Regions from separate parts of the Homo sapiens genome. Here all the other regions are reported to be linked to region 1. The links are microRNA targets in miRTarBase. Many come from high-throughput screens and were not tested one by one. Region 1 holds a microRNA gene; each other region holds the end of a gene's coding sequence. Distances are between the middles of the regions.

Region 1 (4,000 bases):
GCATAGAGGTCGATGGCCCCGTCTGCCAGCCGCTGCAGCAGAAACTGTTCATCTGTCCGGTAGGTGGGGTGGGGGTGGGGGTGGGGGCATTAGTCTCAAGGAGAGGAAAGGGAGGGGCGGAATGGTGTAGAGCTCACTTACTGACAATCCCCTTCTTGTGTTTTATCAGCTTGGCCTCCACCACAGTGGCAAACTGCTCCAGAGCCCGTACTGCCTTAAGAGATGGGGACAGTGCGGGGCTCAGAGGGGCCATCGGCTGCAGTCCCTGATGCAGGCTCTCCTGGACCCCTGGCCACTTACCAGCTCGCCACTCCGACTCAACTCCGGGTGGACAAGTCCGCTGAGACTCAGGCCGCTGCCCAGCCCTGCCCGCCTGAGAGGAAGAGGGAGAATGACTGGTTAGTTGCCATACACCACCCTGCCCTCCCCTGGCTCTGGCCCTAAGCCTACCGCCTCAGCTGTTTGCCTGCCTCTCCTAGCAGGAGGCCAGCATTCCCAAAGGGATTCTTTAGAGCACTGCCAAGCCCAGAGAGCTCCTTTCCTTTGTCCTATGGGGGAAGAGGGTCCAGCAGTCAGGACTCACTGTCCTCCCCACCTCTACCCCCACCCAATTCTCTGTCTTACCATACAGCCCTGCAGAGCCACAAACAGCCGAAGAATGTCATTTGTCCCCTCAAAGATCCGGAAGATGCGAAGATCTCGGAGCACACGCTCTACTCCAGGTTCCTAGCACAGGGCCACACAAATTATATGCCCGTGCTGAGATGTGCCTACCCACCCCTGGCCCAGCCGAGGCTCTGCAGAAGACCGTCCTGTACCTTCATGAAGCCCATACCCCCCATGATTTGGATGCATTCATCTGTCACCTTCCAGGCTGCCTCCTAGGGACAAAGAACAGATGAGACTGGTTTTGGGAGCTGAGCACCCAAACTGGACTCCCTCCCAGCATGCCTGGGACCTCACCGAGCCAAAGATTTTGCTGATGGCGGCCTCTATCTGGAAGTCCGTGGCTCCCTGGTCCATGTTAGCACTCACCATGTAAGCCATGGACTGAGGTTGCATAGTTGGGACATGGGAAGGAAAATTGCAAAGGGCTTTGTCAGACTTGGCCTCATCACCCAGATCTCCAAGATAAGGGCTGACCTAGCTTGTCAGGTCAGGCAGATACTTGTTCTGGGTCAGTTCATCAGGTGCTTCCAGGTATTTGTTTTCTTAAAAGGGGTGGATGTAAGGGATGAGGTAGAATTAACTTCTGGTACTGCTGGCAGGCACCTGAGCAGAACATCATTGCTGTCTCTCTTCGCAGAAGCTGAGCTGACTATGCCTCCCCGCATCCCCTAGGGCATTGGTGTAAAGCTGGAGACCCACTGCCCCAGGTGCTGCTGGGGGTTGTAGTCTGACCCGACTGGGAAGAAAGCCCCAGGGCTCCAGGGAGAGGGGCTTGGGAGGCCCTCACCTCAGTTACATACTGCAGCATAACCATCCGTGCCAGCTTCTCCTGGATCAGCCCAAAGTTGTGAATTTTCTCCCCAAACTGGGTACGATTAGTGGCATGATCTACCTGGAAGAGGGTCCACACATCCCGCTGTGGTTCAGTGTGGTTCTGCAGTCTCCCTAGGAGAGGGGCTGGGCTTGCGCCAGAGGGATGGGTTTTGCATACAACCAGAGTTCAGTCTACGCTGGATGGAGACCTAAGCTAGCAAGTCGGGCTGCTGGTAGGGGAGGAGTTTCTAGTGTAGGGAGTGCCTGCAAGTGATCAGGGACACATGGCAAGGGGGACAGTGAGACTTCTGTTTGGGTTACCTAGGGACTCGGGCAGGGTACTCACCGCCTTAGCAATGATGCCTCTCATGGTACCTGCCAGGGCCGCAGCCATGCCAAACCTTCCATTGTTGAGGATGTGCATGGCAACCTTGAAGCCACTCCCAACCTCACCCAGCACGTTCTCCGATGGCACCCGTACTCCATCAAAGAACACCTCTGCTGTGTTTGAAGCCTTGATGCCCATCTTCTTCTCAGGGGGCCCACTGTGTCAGGGCAGTGTGGGAAAGCAGAGGTGTGTTCAACAGGTTGTCACTGGGGGAAAAACTGCTCCTTCGCTCCTTATGCACCAGGGAGGAATGACGACCACTAGACTATTAGAGGCTACAGCCACCACTTCCCCTCAGGCCCTGAGGGCTAAGGAGGCCTGGCTATGTCCTATTTTGTGTTGGACTTGGTTGCTGGAGCCAAAACTTTAGCTCAGTTGCATACATATTAGTCCCAAAGGCCACATTCAGTCCACCTGCTTTGGCTTTTGCACACGTCCCCAGGGTGACTTGCAACAGCCATCTGCCCAGGAGCCCAGTCCTGCCCCTCAGTCCTAAGCTCCCCCAACCCAAATTCACTCACTGGGTAATGCCCCCGAAGCCCCTCTCCACCACAAAAGCTGTGATCTTCTCCTTCACGGCTCCTGTGGCTGGATCTGTAACTGGTGTCTTGGCAAAGACCGTGAAGATGTCTGCTAGGCCCCCATTACTGTGGAAGAATGGGATATTCAGGGCGTGGAGGACGGGGAGCAGTGGGGCCTGGAATTGGGCGGAGGAGAAGGGGAGAAATGGGAGGCAGGTTGCCTGATCCAAAGCTTGCTTCCATTGAGGGTATAGTATTTTCCACAGGGGCTGGGCACAGCAGAGGTTCGGATGGAGGCTGCATCTGACCCGCTTGAGGGCTCGGTTAGACAGAAAGCGGCCACAGTCTCCCCTGTTGGGGAGAGAGCTACTTTACCCCAAGTTCTGATGAGCTTCAAAGTCCCCTCGGCCCACTTCCCCATCCCTCCAGCAGGCAGTTCCCCCTTAACACCTGGGAGTATCCAGTTCTTTTGCATGTCCCAACCAGCACACTGTGATGCCTCCCCAAAACCTTCCCCCAACTGAAATGCTCAGCCATCTGATAATCTAAGTGCCAACTGGCCTAATCTGTGCCAAGCCCAGTGTGCCCCCCAATCCCTGGCTCTCCTAGGGTTGCCTCACCAGATGCCAGCTTGGGGAGGTATTTTTCTTTCTGGGCCTTTGTGCCAAAGAGCAGGATGCCTTTGAAACCGATGCTCTGATGGGCCCCCAGGGTAATGCCCACGCCAAGGTCATGCATGCCCACGATCTCCACCAAACGGGCGTACTGGAGGGGAAGCAGGAATCTGGGGTTGTCACTGGCTGCAGGGGGACCTGACCTTAACAGGAGAGTGTGGGCAACAGGGCAGTTCCTGACCTAGGGCAGTTCCTGACCTAGGGCAGTGCCTGACCTGGGCCATCCCCAGTGTGTAGAAAAGAAGTGGGGTGTGCAAAGGGCACAGCAGAGAATGCTGGTCTGTCTTAGGTCTAGGTAGGAGGGTGACTTGCTACTAGTCAGTCTATTGTTAGGCAATCCCCAACTTAGAGATTTGTAAGGACTTGGGAACCAGGGTGAGGCCCATGGCTCAGGCCTAGGGGACTGCATGTAAATTGTGTTATGTTTGGACAGTTAACATCCATCCCACAGGCACCCAGGGCAGGTGCTTAGAAGAGACCTTAGCCCTAGTCTCTAGGTCTATGGCAAAAGAGCTGAGTCTGCCAAGCTGGGGTATGGCATACTGGGATGTGGCGATAGGGCGCCCTCACCTGGGTGTTGCAAAGGCCCACACCACCCAGCTCACTGGGCACTTGCAGACCAAAGGCCCCCAGCTCCTTGAGGCCCTGCCAAGTGGTCTCCTCCACCATCTCCAGAGCGTCATTCTTGGCGGGATCGTTCACTTCCTGGGGAAGGCACAGGATCCCACATCCAGGCTCCTTTTGAGCTTAACATCTCCAAACACCTCACCAGGGACCAAGCCCCGAGTCATTCCTTACCTCGAAGAAACGGGACACAGGCTCCACCAGCTCTTTAAGAAACTGTGTCTGCTCTTCGTTGAGCACTGCAGAGGGTGGGGGACAGGCTGGTCAGGCCAGGCTGGCAGGGGAAACCACCCTGGCCCCACCCAGCTCTG
Region 2 (4,000 bases), not on the chromosome of region 1:
AAGAAAGAAAGAGGGATGTTTTATGTAGTTTTTCAAGTGAATGTACTTCCAAACAGTAAAGTGAAATTACTTTTCTCTTTCCTTGTCCACTTTCAGGCTAAGCTTAGAAGCAGTCATTTGCTTTAAAGAAATGTTAGCCAACTCATGGAACTGCCTTCCAAAACACTTACTTCACAGTGTTAATCAGAGGTTTGGTAGTAACAACACTTCTGGATCTTAAGGCTTCATAAATAATGCCTATGATCACCTTGCATGGACAGCAATCCTGTAAACATCACAGAGTGGCATCATTTGTATAATTATATGCATTGTTGTAGTTTGCACCTGTTGGTTTTAATGTGCATGTGAATGGCCTAGAGAACCTATTTTTGTGTCTAAAGTTTACAATAAATGTATTTAACACCAGTAGCTGTCCTCTATTAAAGTAAAGTAATGGTTGGGCTTTTTACCCTGAAGAATGGTTGCTACATTTTCTTTTCAGTAACTTCAGGATATGTATCTGTAGAAACATTATAGTCTTACCATCATCAAAATGCTGAAGTCATTTTTTGAAAACATTATAGATTTTTTTTTTTTTAATGGCAAGAGTAGTCTATAGTTATGTAACCTAGTGTTGTAAATACAATATAATAAAGGTTTTTTTTTTTAAACATTAATATTCACATTATGACGAAGCTGGAAAAACAAAGTGTGGAGGGACCAACAACTGTTCAGTACTTTGACCTTAATGCTTCAGTGTAGGGGCTGGAGCAAGTGGTCATGCTGAATACAGGCAGGTGCTGTCCAGTCAATTAAAAAGTTTTTTTTTAATTAATAGGTTTTATAGCTCATGAAGGAATGGAAATAATGATGACATCATTTTCCATTCTGTTAAGAGACAGAGGAAAAGTGGGTTAGAGTCTTTAGTGGTAAGCCTAAAATGCGCTTCTGGTATTATAGGTTAAGATACTCTAACGTGCTATATTGGTAATTAATTACTAAAGGTGGAAATTAAAATGGTACAGAACTGAATCAGATTACAAGGAAAAAATTAAGATCAAACCTGAAGGTCTACAAATGAATAGAAATGATTAAGCTGAGTCATGAGAATTATTACTTATATTTTACATTTTGGTCTAATATTTTTTTCTGACAAGTATCAATGAAAGCAGAAGAAAATCCACTCCAATACTTAGTTTTCAAGACACAATCCTAAATATTTAAACCCCTTGTAGCTGGCCTATAATATATATATATTAGATGTTATATACAGTAGACTTACCAAGTCAATAGTTTAAGCAATCAAGCCACTTCACTGTTCAGTTTCTTTACATCATGAAATGAATACTTGGTATTAACCTCCCAAATTTCAAGAAAATGTAGAATAACTACAGATGTATATAATTAGCATTTAACTGTCCACAAATACTTTAGGAAATCCTATCATAGTGTTTCCTCTATATAAAACTGGGAAAAAAACAAGAATTAAGTCCTTTTGGTGAATATAGCAAGGCAATGTTTAGTTCATTTGGCCTGTAATATATATATTAGATGTTATATACAGTAGACTTACCAAGTCAATAGTTTAAGCAATCAAGCCACTTCACTGTTCAGTTTCTTTACATCATGAAATGAATACTTGGTATTAACCTCCCAAATTTCAAGAAAATGTAGAATAACTACAGATGTATATTAATTAGCATTTAACTGTCCACAAATACTTTTGGAAATCCTATCATAGACAGTGTTTCCTCTATATAAAACTGGGAAAAAACAAGAAGTAAGTCCTTTTGGTGAATATAGCAAGGCAATGTTTAGTTCATTTTTATAATGCGGAAATCCTGATACATGGTGCTTTCATCTTTGAACTTCCAAAAGGCTATAAAATTGGCTCTTCTCAAATATTTTAGAATTTCATTTCAGCTATTTCCTTTTTACGTTCAGAAGATTGGGTGCAGACACTTTCACTTTGCCAGGAATGTTTCTTGATAAATCTGTGTCCTAAAAAAAGAAAATTGCTGAATATCTTCACATCCTGTATGGTCAATCATGTTTCTTTTATGACAAAAACGAAAAACATTTCCAAACTTTTAGCTGAGATGGTTTTACTGCTTCTAATAAGACAGCATTTTCTACTAAAATAACAAAAAACTGCTAACATTTTAAATTGTACTGTCAGTCTCCACATTCCTTTTCTGAAGGAGAACTTTACCTTTACGCTGCGGAATAAGTCTTTTTCTCTTGCTGTTGCTTCTTTGGAATGCATGAAACTATTCAAGGCTGTTTTTGCAGCTGTAAATACAAAAAAGAGTAAGAATAATCTACTGTTAAGTCACTGAACTGTTTAAAATCATAATTCAAAAAAACAAATTTAAATACCTTTTCCCTTTTTCTGCACTCCAGGAGTAAGTTTCACTTTATATCTTTAAAAAGGAATTACATGTGTTACTAAATAGACGTTACAAAACAATTCACAAAAGCCATTCTGTCAACTAATGGTAACTTACTTGTAGTTTGTCATGGTGGTGTAAGGGGCACATATTGGAATGGCAAACAGTAGTACATCTTCAGGATGTGGCTGGCCTGTCAAAGAATCAAATAGGTTTTCCTAAAAAGGGAAAATAACAGTTACAAAGGCAATTTATACCGCCCTTTACAAAAAATGCTAAAACACTTGAATTAGTATCTCAACATATTTTTTATCTTTTCCTGATATACATACCATCTAAGCTGGAACAGTGGTACTTAAACTCTGCTTCATAGTTCCAAAGAGTTGAAGACCAATGTTTAAATATATTCTTTACTACTTAATTTTTGCCTAGCATAATAAGTAATGAGAACAATAATTTTCAAAATCCTACCTACAGTTACATTTAAGAGAAAGAAGGCCCAGGAGCAGTGGTTCACGCCTATAATCCTAGGACTCTGGAAGGCTCAGGCTGAGGCGGGTGGATCGCTTGAGCCCAGGAGTTCAAGACCAGCCTAAGCAACATGGAGAAACACCATCTCTACAAAAAATATAAAAGTTAGCTGGGTATAGTGGGTGCCTGTAGTCCCAGCTACTCGGAAGACTGAGGGGGGGAGGATCACCTGAGCCCAGGAGGTAGACGTTGTGGAGAGCCATGATCCTGTCACTGCACTGGGTGACACCAGCCTGGGTGACAGAGACCCTGTCTCAAAAAAAAAAAAAAAAGGAAAAAAACTATTGGATATTACCTGAGTTGCAGAAACCTGCTGTGGATTAAAATGATGCAATAATAACCACAAATAGATTTAAGTCCTATCACATGGAAATGGGACTAATACCTTGGCTATACCACTATTTCTCGTCCTGGGGAGATTCTGCCCTCAGAAGACAATGGGCAATGTCTAGAGATAGTTTTCGTTGACACGATGAGGGGTGAGAAGGAATAGGTAGGGGCTGCTACTGGGATCTAGTGGGTAAAGGCCGAGGATGTCGCTAAACATTTTATAATGAATGGGACAGACCCCACAACAAAGAATTAACCAACCCCTAATGTTAATAGTGCCAAAGTTGAGAAACCCTGGGCTAGAACAGCCTTCTCTCTTACCCATTATTAAGGAGAAATCCCAGAGTTCTTATTTGCTGTGCTGCCTGTGAGATTGCCCCCATTTATTTTACAATATGAATAAACTTAGATTTAGGACAGAATGCTTGGTGCTGAAGTATAATTAATATTTGAGTGTTTGCTATGTGCCATAAACTTTTCTAAATGCCCTTTACATACATTAGTTATCAAAACAACCCTCTCCTGGGTAGGGACATTATCCCCATTCTTCAGATGAGGAAACTGAGGCACAAAGAATGTTTCCAAGTTTGTACAGTTACATATAGCAGAGTTGGGATTAAGACCCCGAAAGTTTGACTTCGTAGCCTGCAGTCTTGTCTTAGGTTTCTAAGTTTTAATAAGTTGTGTTTCAAACATTCTGGGAACTGAATTGTAATCACAGTGTTGTAGTAGGAACCCCAACATAAAATCATACCTCATTTCCCTGTTGA
Region 3 (4,000 bases), not on the chromosome of region 1:
GTGAGACCCCTCTCCCCACCTCTAGATGCTGGATTATCCCATGGTCCTCAGATTTCTTTTAACATACTCTATAAGCCCTTTTCTTGTTATAAACTCTTGATCTCAAAGGATCTTAAAGAGGTAGCTTTCTTTCAAAGCATCTATTATAATGGGGAGGGTCAGATGGCATCATTTTTCTTCCAACTCTCACTCTCCCTGCAAAGCCAGGTTCAGTTTCCCTGGTTCTTATTTGATCCTGTCCTTAAACCTACAGCACAGTTGCAGCCCCAACCTGTTTGTCCAGAATGTCTTCGTGGATACCCATGATCTTCGCTTCCCCTGGGTGGCCTTCTTTGCCAGCAAGTAAGGAGTCAGGAAAGGGGATGACTGGGGAGGGGCAAGGACCACTGAAGTTCTAAGGGCCCCTCCTCCATTCATGATCCAACTCCACCTACATATTCAGTAACCCCAAGTGCCTGGGTTATCTGCTGTCTTTGCCACACACCATCCTTTTCTTCCTCTTCAGAAGAATCCGGGCTGGGACAGAACTTACTTGGGACTACAACTACGAGGTGGGCAGTGTGGAAGGCAAGGAGCTACTCTGTTGCTGTGGGGCCATTGAATGCAGAGGACGTCTTCTTTAGAGGACAGCCTTCTTCCCAACCCTTCTTGAACTGTCGTTTCCTCAGGAACTGGGTCTTCCTGATTGTTGAACCCTGACCCGAAGTCTCTGGGCTAGCTACTCCCCCCAGCTCCTAGTTGATAGAAATGGGGGTTCTGGACCAGATGATCCCTTCCAATGTGGTGCTAGCAGGCAGGATCCCTTCTCCACCTCCAAAGGCCCTAAAGGGTGGGGAGAGATCACCACTCTAACCTCGGCCTGACATCCCTCCCATCCCATATTTGTCCAAGTGTTCCTGCTTCTAACAGACTTTGTTCTTAGAATGGAGCCTGTGTATCTACTATCTCCAGTTTGTATTATTTCTTGAAAGTCTTTTAACAATATGATAAAACTAAGATTGTGGTTTTGTTTCTCTCTCTCAGCCCGATACTCCCAATTCTGGATCTTTCAGTGAGGTATTATCCCCATCCTCCCCTGTGGGCTGCTGTCATTCATCTTCTACCTTGTCTACCTTTGCTTCTTGCATGTGAATTTTTTTAGATGGAGTTCTCGCTCTGTCACCCAGGCTGGAGTGCAATGGTGCAATCTCGACTCACTGCAGCCTCCGCCTCCCGGGTTCAGGTGATTCTCCTGCCTCAGCCTCCTAAGTAGCTGAGATTACAGTCGCCCGCCACCACACCCAGCTAGATGTATTTTTAGTAGAGATGGGGTTTCGCCATGTTGGCCAGGCTGGTCTCAAACTCCTGACCTCTAGTGATCCACCCTCCTTGGCCCCTCAAAGTGCTCAAATTACATGCATGTGAAATTTAAAAAAGAAAATATTACATAACTGCAAGGAAGGCATAAGAAAGACTCTCTTCGTTTATTTAGTTGATCCCCCTTCTCAATTCCTAATAGTCTGACACTTATTGCCATGTTTTATTTAATATTTTTTATTTAATCTTTTAATTTTTAAAAAAAACCCATTAACAGTACATTTTGGTCTAAAATGGTCCCTCTGCTGAAATGCTAGGTGCTAGCCGTAATTCTGGCTTTAAAACCAAAACCCCAAATATTTAATAAATAAAAATTAGAATTAGTTGCCATTCTACTCCAAACCAGCTAGCCTAGCTGAAGAGAAGAGGGAAGGGGGAAGAGGCCAGAGAAAGGAGGAGGCAGTCAGATCTTAGACCTGTCGCTACAGGGACAGCTGAAAGAAGTAGCACTAAGAAAGATCATCCGAGCAGTCCCCAGTACAGCCCCCACTTTTTGGCAGAGGTAGGGTAAGGGTTATGTGCACCCTCCTCCTACCCTCAATTCATTTGTGTCATAGAGGGAGAAAGTTAAAAGCTCAGCTTTGGTTTCTGGCCCAAGTTAGGGAGCTTAGAAAGGTTAGCCTTGGTCCAGCTTTGGCAGAATGAGGCCCACAGATGGGACAATAAGGCACAACCCTGGCTCTGGAGGTCAGGGAGTCAAAGGCAAACAGCTGGGGCCAAATTCTCAGAATAAGGAATGTGAATTGTAACCCCTACCCACAGAGAGCTGAGGGAGGGCCTCAAAAGCAGTAGAAAGGATGACTTGGCGGGTAGGGAGGAAAATACGACCGTCCCCCTCTAACAGAATATAACCAACGTCCCCCTACCTGGGGATAGGCTGGTTAGAATTTGGTTTAAAGGCAACTGGGTGACAAGCAAGGAGGGAGGATGCAGAGAACTCTCCTCTCACTTTCTCCTTTTTCCCCAGAGCTTAAAGTGACCCTATAGCGCAGGGAGCGGGGTAGTTCCTTGGCTTTATGCATTAATCTGGGAGGCAGCTGGAGTAATGGTTCAGTCATTCTTACGATGGTTGTTATTGAGGATGGGGTGGCCATTGGCTAGGGGCCGGCTCTTTGCTCCTCCCCCAGCTGCAGCCTCCTCCCCCTCTGAGCTCTCTGTTTCTTCCCGGTCACTGCGTTCATCTTCTACCAGCTGTGGAAAAGGGACAAGAAGGGTTATTACATGAGATCCTCAAACCCCTAAGTACTGCTTCTCTCTGAGGGCTTGTTCCTGTTATACCCAGGGCTCCACACTAGTTTTTTAGAGAGTTACTGGCAAGATGGGAGTTCAGGAAGTTGTAGAGAGTAGTAAGGCCTACACAATGGGAACAGGGCTTCACCTTTCCAGTTATGAACTTGTGGGCCATGCGCAAAATGAGGTAGGCCCAGAAGATATGCAGCAGCTGTAGAACTCCCATCATGGAATTGAAGAAGTAATAGCCAAAGAAGGCAGGATAGAGCTCCAGTGGGTACACCAGGGTGCAATGCAGGATCCTGAGGATTCAAGGAGAGAGAGAACGTGGACAAGAGCAGGTCAGACACCGGGGAGATACAGGAGGGGAAGAAAGGCAAGGCTCCTGATTTCTTCAGAACAGGAGTGTAGCCTAGCTGCCTACTCACCAGAAGGGCAGGATGACCAGTCGGGTGATGATAAAAACAATGGCGAAGACGATGAAGATGTTGTTGCAGGTGTTCTTCCATCCCGCGTAGTTAAACATCTTGGCTGACTGCATAGAGAGCCCCCATCCATCATCATGGGCTCCTGACTCCCTCGAGTACATTCATATGTACACTCCAGTTAGGAGCACTGACTCTGTGCCCTCCTCCTTGGTCCCAGGAATGTCATCCTCCAAATTCCCACCCCGCACCTCCCTCCCAAAGAAAACCAAAGGGACAGAAGAACCTGCACCAGGGTCTCTAGATTTGAGGAAGCCTGACCTCCAGCAGGTAATCGGAAGAGTCATGCAGAGCCATGATTAGAGTCCCAGCTCGGATGTAATTGGCAAACCAGGAAAAGCTGATGAGAATGATGGTGGCCACATGGTGGATGATCTGTTCCTTGAAATCCTGCAGAGATGATGCAGGCCCCAGGGCCTTTTTTTATTCCCCAGCTCTCACTATGCCTTCTTACCCCTTGCCTTTGGTTCCCCATATACCAACAGCTCCATTCAGAGTACCCAGAAGTCAAAGGAGAGGGTGTTCATCCCAGGGCCTCATTTTGGCTCTGAGGCTTAATTGCACAACCCCTTCACCCACCTTTCGCTTGACATCAGAGGCAATGCTGAAGAGCAGGGACCAGTAGAAGGAAAGTTCAATCATGTAGTACCAATACTGGGAAGGGATAGTGCTCTGGGAGAGGAGAGAGAGGTAAGAGCAACCAGCCGCAAGGGTGTCCCCACTCCACAAACCCCCTAGCCCCTGAGGTTCTTCATTCCATCACTCTAATCCCTCTGCCATGGATTCCACAAACCGTCTCTTCACTAGGGTGTGTCTTAGTCCACCCCCACATGAGGAAGCAGAACTCATACCTGTATGGGATATCCCTCCCAAACTTTCTTCATGTCATAGAACCAGGGTTTCTGCAGAGAGATGGTGAGAAGTTAAAA
Region 4 (4,000 bases), 5.2 Mb from region 1:
GATCATCATCTTAACTCTACTCTTCCTTTTTACTCTTCTGTCCTCTTAGAGACTTTCGCCTGTATACATGGATTACTGTTACTTAGCAGGGGCGACCGGTTGGCCAAAGCCTTGGTGTGCCCTTGGCACAATTCTGCCAAGACCCTTACCCTCTCCTCTCCTCAGGGCTCCCTTAACCCCTCTCCCCACATCTGGAAAACCCTGGATACATTTTCTGTTCCATCTTTAGTTTTCTGCCTCTGGATGCGTAAAGCTTCAACCTGCTGGCTTTTAGAGGGAGAGGACTTGTTAAAAAAAAAAAAGTGGGGTGTGGGGAGAGCGGTGTTGTGATCTGGGGGCCAGCCATGTGGTAAAAAGGAGTAGAGGTCAAGGGGCTGCTTCTATTCCCTCAGTTTAGGGTCCTGGGAGGCTGACGGGTTTGGGCAGCTTTTGGGAACTAGGCAGAAGAGAGTCCTGTATGGGAGGCCGGAGTCAAGGCAGAAGCCCAGTGCAGCCCTCTCTAGGCCAGCAGGGGAGGGTCCCCGGGGCTGAGAGCCCGGACGGAGGAAAGGACTGGTAGAAGAGCCAAGACACGGCTAGCGTGGCACCCCCTCCCCAGGACCACATTCTCCAGGGTGAGAAGAGCAGCCAGCCCTCTGCCTCCTGTCCTCAGTGACAGCCTTCTGCTCTCTCATGCCCACAGAGGAGCCAATCCGGCTACTGCGGGAGGTGGTGCTGTTGACGGATGACCGGAACCTGCGTGTGAAGGCGCTCACAAGGAATGTTCCTGTACGGGACATCCCAGCCTTCCTCACGTGGGCCCAGGTGGGCTGAGGGAGCCACACTGGGGCCCCCCCCCCGTGGAACCGTTCCTGAAAGGCCACCAGGCGCCCAGTGTAGCACGGAAGATGCCCACGTGCCTGAGCCACCAATCCACCCAGACAATAAACCATCCTCTTCCAACCCACGCCACGGCCATGCTGTGGGGGACCTGCTCCTCACAGAGCCCCTCCCAAGGATCGGGCGGAAGCTGCTGGGACCCTCCTGGGCTGCCAGGATTTAGCAGGGAGGTGGCTGGCTACAGCAACAGCAGCTGGGCAAGCCAGATAGGCCGCCCATGCTCTCAGCCTTTCTCCCTCCCCCGTCTCATTCCAAGGCTGAGGGAGGGCCTTCTCGCCTGGGGACGCAGCCACTTTCTCCAGTGGAGACAGGGCAGGGGTTCTGAGTTTCCGTCAGATGCAGTGAAATCACAGTTCCCTTTCATCTTCAGAACCTCTGTCGTGAATGTGTTCAAGAGGCTTTGGTTAAGTCAGGAAGAAGTGCCCAGGGTGTGTGTCCCCAGTCTCCCTGAGGCCTGGACTCGCCCATGAACCCAAGTCGGCTTCTAGACAGCATGTCCCTAACAGCAGCCCTGGGCCCCCACCTCTTCTACCATCCACCCCAGACTTACCACACACCCTTCCTGCTGCTCCTCTTCCTGCCCTTATCAACCTGGGTCCCTCACACTTCGCCAGTTGCGTCCCCGTGGACAGTCATGAGTCTAGAGGAAAGGGGCATCTGGTCTCAGGCCCGTGCTCTCGGGTGGCCTCCACCTGCTCCCTCTCTCCTCACTGGCCTTTCTTTCCGTCTAGCTTCCTCTTCAGGAAATGTCCTGACTCCCCTCAGCTCCCCCTTCACCCCTCCTTGCCCGCCTACCCTCCCTCCAGAATAGCCCCTCACCCTTCTTCCCCTTCTAGTTGATCCTTTTCACCTCCCTGATCCCCTTCATTTCTTCACCGCGGTTCCTCGTCATAGGGGTTCTCACTCTGAACTTTCCCTCTCTACTACCCATGGCAGGAACCTAGTACAGGTCTCCCACCCAGGGCCTTCCACCCTCGGCTCCTGTGCTGGGAGAAACTTCCAGGCGTGGACAGCCCAGCCTGAGGCATTCCAGTGCTGGGGCACCGTCGCCTAACCTGGTTTCTAGCTTTGCCCTCACTCCCCGGAAAAACTGACACTGACACAGGGGCCCTTTCCTTGCCCCTTTAGCTGGTACCTCAGTGGGGAGGCTTCCTTACCAAGAATGAGTTCCTGAAACCCAGGGCCAGAGACAAGGACAACTTAGGGGAAGACGGGGTTTTCGGTGGAGCCAGGGGCAAATCTTAATGGGACCAGTGGGGGATACCCCAGAGCCCATGGCCTGACTGCACAGCCTGCCTGGAGGATGGGTGCGCAGCTCTGCCCTCCCTGAGGCCCAGGACTATGCCAGAAGCGATGGGGTACCGTGTAGGGGAGCCAAGGCCAGTAGTTTGGGGGTAGGAGTCCCCTAGAGTCTCAGAAGACTGGGCTCTTTGGAGTACAGGGTCCCCGGCCTCTCCTTTAAGATTCTCTCCCCAGCTGGAAGGCCGATGACTGGGTGGTCGGGAGGGAGACCCAGCTCTCCTTTCTGTCCCGTTTGCAGCACTGGTTTTGTTTCCTTAATAAATTTTTAGTTATGAAACATACCTGACCTCTTGCTGATCTGTTTCTGGGACTGGGGAGGGAGGCAGGTCCAAGCCTCTGCACCTGTGTGAGGGTGGCCCTTTCTGGCTCCTCCACCCAGCGGGCGCAGCCCATCCAGGTCCTTGTGCAGGGGCAGAAGAGAGCAGCGGGGTCGGGGTCCTTGGTTACTGCTTTATTGCTGTTTGGTTCGAGTATAGAAAATGGAAGCGGCTCTGGAAGAGCCTGTGTACAAGGTAGGAAATATACAAACGAAGAGGAGGGAGCTAAAGAGACCGCGTTCCAGCCCAGCCCAGCCTGGGCTCGGGATGGGGGGCCGCCGGGGCGCATGCAATAAATATGGTCCGGGGCCGCAGGGAAGGGAAGGGAGGGCACCGCGGGAGTGGGAGACCTGGTGGTAGGCTCTTCGCCTTCCGACTCCAGAACTCCCCGCCCTTGGTGACTGAGGAAGGAAGGGTTGGCCCTGGGGCTAGTGCCACTTGTGCAAAATGAGGAACTTCACATTATCAGTCCCGGGGTGGGTGGGAGCGGGGGTGCGGGGGGCCCTCCGGCCGGCTCAGTCCCCTCCCCACTCCCCAACTCTGCCCGACGCTCCGACCCCAGCGGGGAGATTCACAGTGAGAATGGGTGTGGTCGCAAGGGCCGGAGGTAGGGCTAGGAGTGCCCCGACAGTGACACCCCTCCCCCTCTAAGAGCAGCGCGGAGCCGGGGGAGGGGGCCGACGAACCACAGGAAGAGGCGGGAGGGGCCTGGGGTCTCCTTTGGTCAAAGCTGATATCAAAAATATAAATTTCCCTTACCCCATCCCACCCCCGTCCCGGGGTTCTCCCCCGACCCCCGAGCTAAGGCACGAAGCAGTGAGGCCAGGTGAGGCCGCCGAGAGGTGGAGCCGCCACTGTGGCGACGCTGCGGTTGTCCCGGGCACAGTGGGCCCTGCGCGCCGCCCCCGCCGCTCCCTGGGGTGCGGGCCAGGGCCGCGCAGCAGCGACAGAGCGGGCTGGCGAGGGGCGCTCTAGGTGGGAGAGAAACGGTCGATGGTCCGGCCGTCGGGCCCGGCCGCCAGGTGAGCGCCCTGGCTCAGCACCTCGGCCGCCTTGTCGGGGCTGAGGCCCAGCTCGGCCGTGAACTTGGCCAGCGGGTAGAGGCTCTCCAGCGCCACCTTGGGGTCGTGCAGGAAGTGCGTGGTCTGCGCCAGCAGCTCGGCCGCGGCCGCCTTGTCCTGCTGCTTCAGGCTCAGCTGCTCGGCCGTGAGGCGAGCCACAGCAAAGACGCCCTCGGGGAAGTCGAGCTTGCCCTTGCCGTCGGGGCCGGGGACGCCGGGGAGCCCCCCCAAGCCCGCCAGCGCCCCGGCCGCGCCGGCCGCGCCCCCCACGGCGTGCATCTTCATGTGGCTGATGAGGTTGCGTTGCTGTGCGAACTTGCCGCCGCACACCTGGCACTCGTAGGGCTTCTCGCCCGAGTGGATGCGCATGTGCTCCGTGAGGCGGTACTGGCGCGTGAACCGCATGCCGCACGCGTCGCACGCGAAGGGCTTGAGGCCCAG
Region 5 (4,000 bases), not on the chromosome of region 1:
GGGAGGGAGTGATGGTTTCTAGTGGAGACCAGGGAAGGCTTCTTGGAGGAGGCATTTTGAGCTGGTCCTTGAAGGGCTGTTGTGGTTGAGGCATTCTAGGTTGCAGGGATAGTTGAGCAATGGCGGAGAGGCTGGAAAGTCAGAGGCTTCATTCATTCACTCACTCAGTCATTCAACAAATGCTTATTGCAAAACTGTGAGGGCACCAGGGAGCCAGCAGCGAACACAGGACCGTTCATCTTTCATGGGGAAACATAACAGCACTCAGATAAGCACAGCAGTCAATCCTGGAGAGAAGGTCGTGGAGGGCTGAGGAGGGCTAGGGGCTCAGCATAGAGGCCTGATCCAGTCTGGGGCATTGGGTGGGCTCCCGGTGGTGACATCCATACTGAGACTTGAAGGATGAGTGGGACTCATCCAGGAGGAGAGAAGGGAAGGAAGATGGGAGGACCCAGCACCTTCCAGGCAGAGACAGCAGCATGTTCAAAGGGCCTGAGGTAGGTAAAGGCAGGTGTGAGAGAGGAAAGGAAGAGGCAGGGAGGCAGGGCTAGCTAGGAGGCAGGGGCTGGAGACTCCGCTGGGTGTTTTATCCTGAGGGAGCCACAGAAGGGCTGGCGAACAGGGCCCATCTGGGGACAGAGGCCTTGAATGCCCAACTCAGGAATGTGGGCTCTGGCCACTAAGCAGCTGCTGCAGGAAGTGCAGAGACTTGGCATCTGGCAGGACTTCCCATGTAGGACACTGGCTCGCCACCCTATGACCACCCTAACCCTAGAAAAAAGGATGCAGTACTAAAGTGTCATTCATTCAAAGCCACTCCTCTTTTGGTATTCCACCCATTTTCCAGACGGTGACACTGAGGCTCAGGAAGCAGTAGGGACTTGCACAAAGCCCTTTGGGAAGCAGGCTGGGAAACAGTGGAGGGAGGGTGTCCATTAGCCCCAAGGAGACACAGGATCTGGGCTCTGTCTTTCGCCTTCCTCCCAGAATACGCTGCCATCAACTCCATGCTGGACCAGATCAACTCCTGTCTGGACCACCTGGAGGAGAAGAATGACCACCTCCACGCCCGCCTCCAGGAGCTGCTGGAGTCCAACCGGCAGACACGCCTGGAGTTCCAGCAGCAGCTCGGGGAGGCCCCCAGTGATGCCAGCCCCTAGGCTCCAAGAGCCCCCAACCGGGACCCAACCCTGCCTCCCTGGGCTAGGCTCTGGCCTGGGCACTCACCCCCTGGCTTAGACACCTTCTCAAGGGCTGGCCTTCAGGGACCCCTGGTGGGTCTGCCTGCCTGGGCCACCCTTCCTGCCTGGGCCTCCCCTTGGCCTACCTGGGCCAGCCCCCACCACCTGGCATGCCCTCCTGGGGCCAAGAGTGGGCCTGCAACCCACCCACTTGCCTGCCCACCCAACTCCTGGGCGCTCCCCACTCTGCCCAGGCCTTGAGTGTCCACATTAAATGGGTCTCCCACACCGCTGTGCCTCTCTCCTCTGTATCCCAGGACGAGAACCCCAGCAGCTGCTGGAGGCGAACAGGACTGTCTAGGTGTTCAGGTGTTGATCCTATACTGGCGGCTCAGAGGCCAGGTGGTAGGGCTGGGGTTCTTGGTCACCTGTACTTCTGGACACAGAAGGTGCAGGTGAGGGCAGGGCTTCCTCCCTACCTGATACATTCCTGGCCAGCAGCTGCTTCCTAGCCCAGAAGCCCAGTTGAGACTGTTGGACATGCTGTGTGACCTTGTGTGATGCTCTCAGCCTCTCTGGGTACTAGGGCCTTTCACCAAGACAGCCAACATGCTAAGACATGCTATGCAGCCTCAGCATTGCCCTCCCACTCTTGGCCTGTCTCCCCAGTAATAGGGTTGGTCTGGTCGTTTATCTCTATGGGTCTTTCTAATGAGGAAATAGCAGAAGTAAAGGGCCAACTCAGCCCAGGCCCCATCCACCCATGATTCATCTTAGGGTCGCCTGACCAGGAGGGTGGGGTGCCTGCTAGTGAACCAAGAAGAGAACCAGAGGGCCTGAGCAGCAAGGACCCCACTCCTGCACTCCAAAGGGTGCAGCTGGAGAGACAGGCCAGCATGGGTCGGAGAGCTCAGGCCCGGGTCAAATCCCAGCCACTTACCAACTGCGTGGTCTTCAGCAAGTCACTTGACCTTGCTAGGCCTCCAGCCAAAGGAACTTCCCCAGCTCTGATACGTTATTAAGAGGGAAACTTGGCCACGCACAGTGGCTCACACCTATAATCCCAGCAGTTTGGAATGCCACAGTGGGCGGATTGCTCGAGCCCAGGAATTTGAGACCAGCCTGGGGAACATGGCGAAACACCATCTCTACCAAGAACATACAAAAAATTACCCAGGCGTGATGGCGCACGCCTGTGGTCCCAGCTACTCGGGAAGTTGAGGTGGGAGGATGGCTTAAGCCTGGGAGGCAGAGGTTGCAGTGAGCCAAGATTGGCACCACTGTACTCCAGTTTGAGCAACACAGCCAGACCCCGCCTCAAAAAAATAAAAATTAGCCATGTGCGGTGGCTCACGCCTGTAATCTCAGCACTTTGGGAGGCCAAGGCAGGCAGATCATTTAAGGTCAGGAGTTCAAGACCAGCCTCGCCAACATGGCGAAACCCTGTCTATACTAAAAATACAAAAAGTTGGGCGTGGTGGTGTGCACCTGTAATCCCAGCTCCTCAGGAGGCTGAGGTAGGAGAATCACTTGAACCTGGGAGGTGGAGGTTTCAGTGAGCTGAGATCGGGTCATTGCACTCCATCCTGAGAGACAGCGAGACTCCATCTCAAAAAATAAATAAAAATAAAAATTAAAATTTTTTTTTTGAGATGGAGTCACCTAGGCTGGAGTGCAATGGCACGATCTCGGCTCACTGCAACCTCTGCCTCCCAGGTTGAAGCGATTCTCCTGCCTCACTGTCTCAGCCTCCCGAGTAGCTGGGATTACAGGTGCGCGCCACCATGCCTGGCTAATTGTATTTTTAGTAGAGACGGGATTTCTCCATGTTAGCCAAGCTGATCTCAAACTCCTGACCTCAGGTGACCCGCCCACCTCAGCCTCCCAAAGTACTGGGATTATAGGCATGAGCCACCCCGCCTGGCTCAAAAATTAAAATTTTTTTTTTTGAGATGGAGTCTCACTCTTTTGCCCAAGCTGGAGTGCACAGGCACGATCTCGGCTCACTGCAACCTCCACCTCCCGGGTTCAAGCAATTCTCCCTGCCTCAGCCTCCCGAGTAGCTGGGATTACAGGCGCCCGCCACAACACCCAGCTAATTTTTGTATTTTTTAGTGGAGACGGTTTTGCCATGTTGGCCAGGCTGGTTTTGAACTCCTGACCTCAGGTGATCCACCCGTCTCAGCCTCCCAAAGTGCTGGGATTACAGGTGTGAGCCACCACGCCCCGCCTAAAAATTTTTTTAAAAGAGGGATACCCAAGTTCAGACAGGTGAAGTGCCTCATGATCCAGAGTCCCTGGTTCCCAGGGAGCCTGTCTGGCCTTCTGTTTCTGCCACCACATGGCCCAGAGAGGCTGGGTGCTGGCTGAGAGTTGGCTGGGGTGCCCCCCTTCCCCTATCCACCCAGACAGAAGTACTGGTGGGAACTGCACAGCCAAACTACCTTGTTTTATTGGATTTTGAGTAAAAACATGAACCATGTCAAAGTTTCCAGGCAGACTCCTAAAAAGCATTAGCAGATCTGGACCCAGGCAGGCCAGGGACAGGGAGGTCCCTCTATCAGGTTTTGAGGCGGGTTGAGCGCCGAGGTAGTGGGGGCTGGGAGGGTCGAGCCGTCACCTTGCTGGGTGTTTTGTCCTGGGTGTTGGGCTGGGAGGGTGGGCGGCCGCTGGAGGTGAACAGGGCTGTCAAAGCGTTCCGGGCGTTGATTGCGCACCGGCGGCTCACAGGTCGGGTGGTGGGGCTGGGGTTCTTGGCCGCCTTGTATTTCTGGATACAGAAGGTGCAGGTAAGGTCAGGGTCTCCTCCCTACATGGTA

Evidence for each region. Region 1 holds the annotated microRNA hsa-miR-324-3p (CCCACUGCCCCAGGUGCUGCUGG, at 1,364-1,386, shown strand). A microRNA usually pairs through its seed, bases 2 to 8, with sites in the 3' UTR of a target mRNA and lowers its output. Matches are read on the target gene's strand: a 7mer-m8 pairs with bases 2 to 8, a 7mer-A1 pairs with bases 2 to 7 and ends in A, and an 8mer does both.
Region 2: miRTarBase lists KLHDC2 as a target of hsa-miR-324-3p. Seed matches in the 3' UTR shown: 7mer-m8 at 2,875-2,881.
Region 3: miRTarBase lists SETDB1 as a target of hsa-miR-324-3p. The part of its 3' UTR that is shown has no 7-base or 8-base seed match.
Region 4: miRTarBase lists HIC1 as a target of hsa-miR-324-3p. The part of its 3' UTR that is shown has no 7-base or 8-base seed match.
Region 5: miRTarBase lists CIZ1 as a target of hsa-miR-324-3p. The part of its 3' UTR that is shown has no 7-base or 8-base seed match.

What each region holds. Positions count from the first base shown.
Region 1 is chr17:7,220,694-7,224,693 of GRCh38, reverse strand. MIR324 (microRNA 324) reads left to right here and starts at 1,315; the gene lies at 1,315-1,397. ACADVL (acyl-CoA dehydrogenase very long chain) reads right to left here. Exons shown (of 20, transcript NM_000018.4): 5 at 3,864-3,928; 6 at 3,636-3,770; 7 at 3,012-3,156; 8 at 2,613-2,742; 9 at 2,392-2,517; 10 at 1,829-2,027; 11 at 1,457-1,561; 12 at 964-1,050; 13 at 819-881; 14 at 625-726; 15 at 451-548; 16 at 301-373; 17 at 142-214; 18 at 1-52. RefSeq lists an enhancer at 3,857-4,000.
Region 2 is chr14:49,782,734-49,786,733 of GRCh38, forward strand. KLHDC2 (kelch domain containing 2) reads left to right here. Exons shown (of 13, transcript NM_014315.3): 13 at 97-3,652. The coding sequence ends at 220. It overlaps NEMF (nuclear export mediator factor), which reads right to left. Exons shown (of 33, transcript NM_004713.6): 29 at 3,985-4,000; 30 at 2,487-2,587; 31 at 2,359-2,402; 32 at 2,192-2,271; 33 at 1-1,980. The coding sequence ends at 1,903. Among named protein-coding and RNA genes, the nearest start is that of KLHDC2, 17 kb to the left of the region's middle.
Region 3 is chr1:150,963,742-150,967,741 of GRCh38, forward strand. SETDB1 (SET domain bifurcated histone lysine methyltransferase 1) reads left to right here. Exons shown (of 22, transcript NM_001366418.1): 21 at 254-342; 22 at 506-996. The coding sequence ends at 623. It overlaps CERS2 (ceramide synthase 2), which reads right to left. Exons shown (of 11, transcript NM_022075.5): 6 at 3,923-3,973; 7 at 3,651-3,743; 8 at 3,333-3,461; 9 at 3,015-3,121; 10 at 2,735-2,888; 11 at 1,445-2,547. The coding sequence ends at 2,407. Among named protein-coding and RNA genes, the nearest start is that of CERS2, 9.1 kb to the right of the region's middle. RefSeq lists enhancers at 1,040-1,184, 1,677-1,821 and cis regulatory regions at 1,112, 1,748.
Region 4 is chr17:2,058,305-2,062,304 of GRCh38, reverse strand. HIC1 (HIC ZBTB transcriptional repressor 1) reads right to left here. Exons shown (of 2, transcript NM_006497.4): 2 at 1-4,000. The coding sequence ends at 3,470. It overlaps SMG6 (SMG6 nonsense mediated mRNA decay factor), which reads left to right. Exons shown (of 19, transcript NM_017575.5): 19 at 683-2,462. The coding sequence ends at 813. Among named protein-coding and RNA genes, the nearest start is that of HIC1, 5.2 kb to the right of the region's middle. RefSeq lists silencers at 2,909-2,978, 3,309-3,498, 3,519-3,608, 3,629-3,948 and an enhancer at 3,641-4,000.
Region 5 is chr9:128,162,456-128,166,455 of GRCh38, forward strand. CIZ1 (CDKN1A interacting zinc finger protein 1) reads right to left here. Exons shown (of 17, transcript NM_001131016.2): 17 at 3,610-3,951. The coding sequence ends at 3,742. It overlaps BBLN (bublin coiled coil protein), which reads left to right. Exons shown (of 2, transcript NM_024112.4): 2 at 988-1,469. The coding sequence ends at 1,160. Among named protein-coding and RNA genes, the nearest start is that of BBLN, 4.2 kb to the left of the region's middle.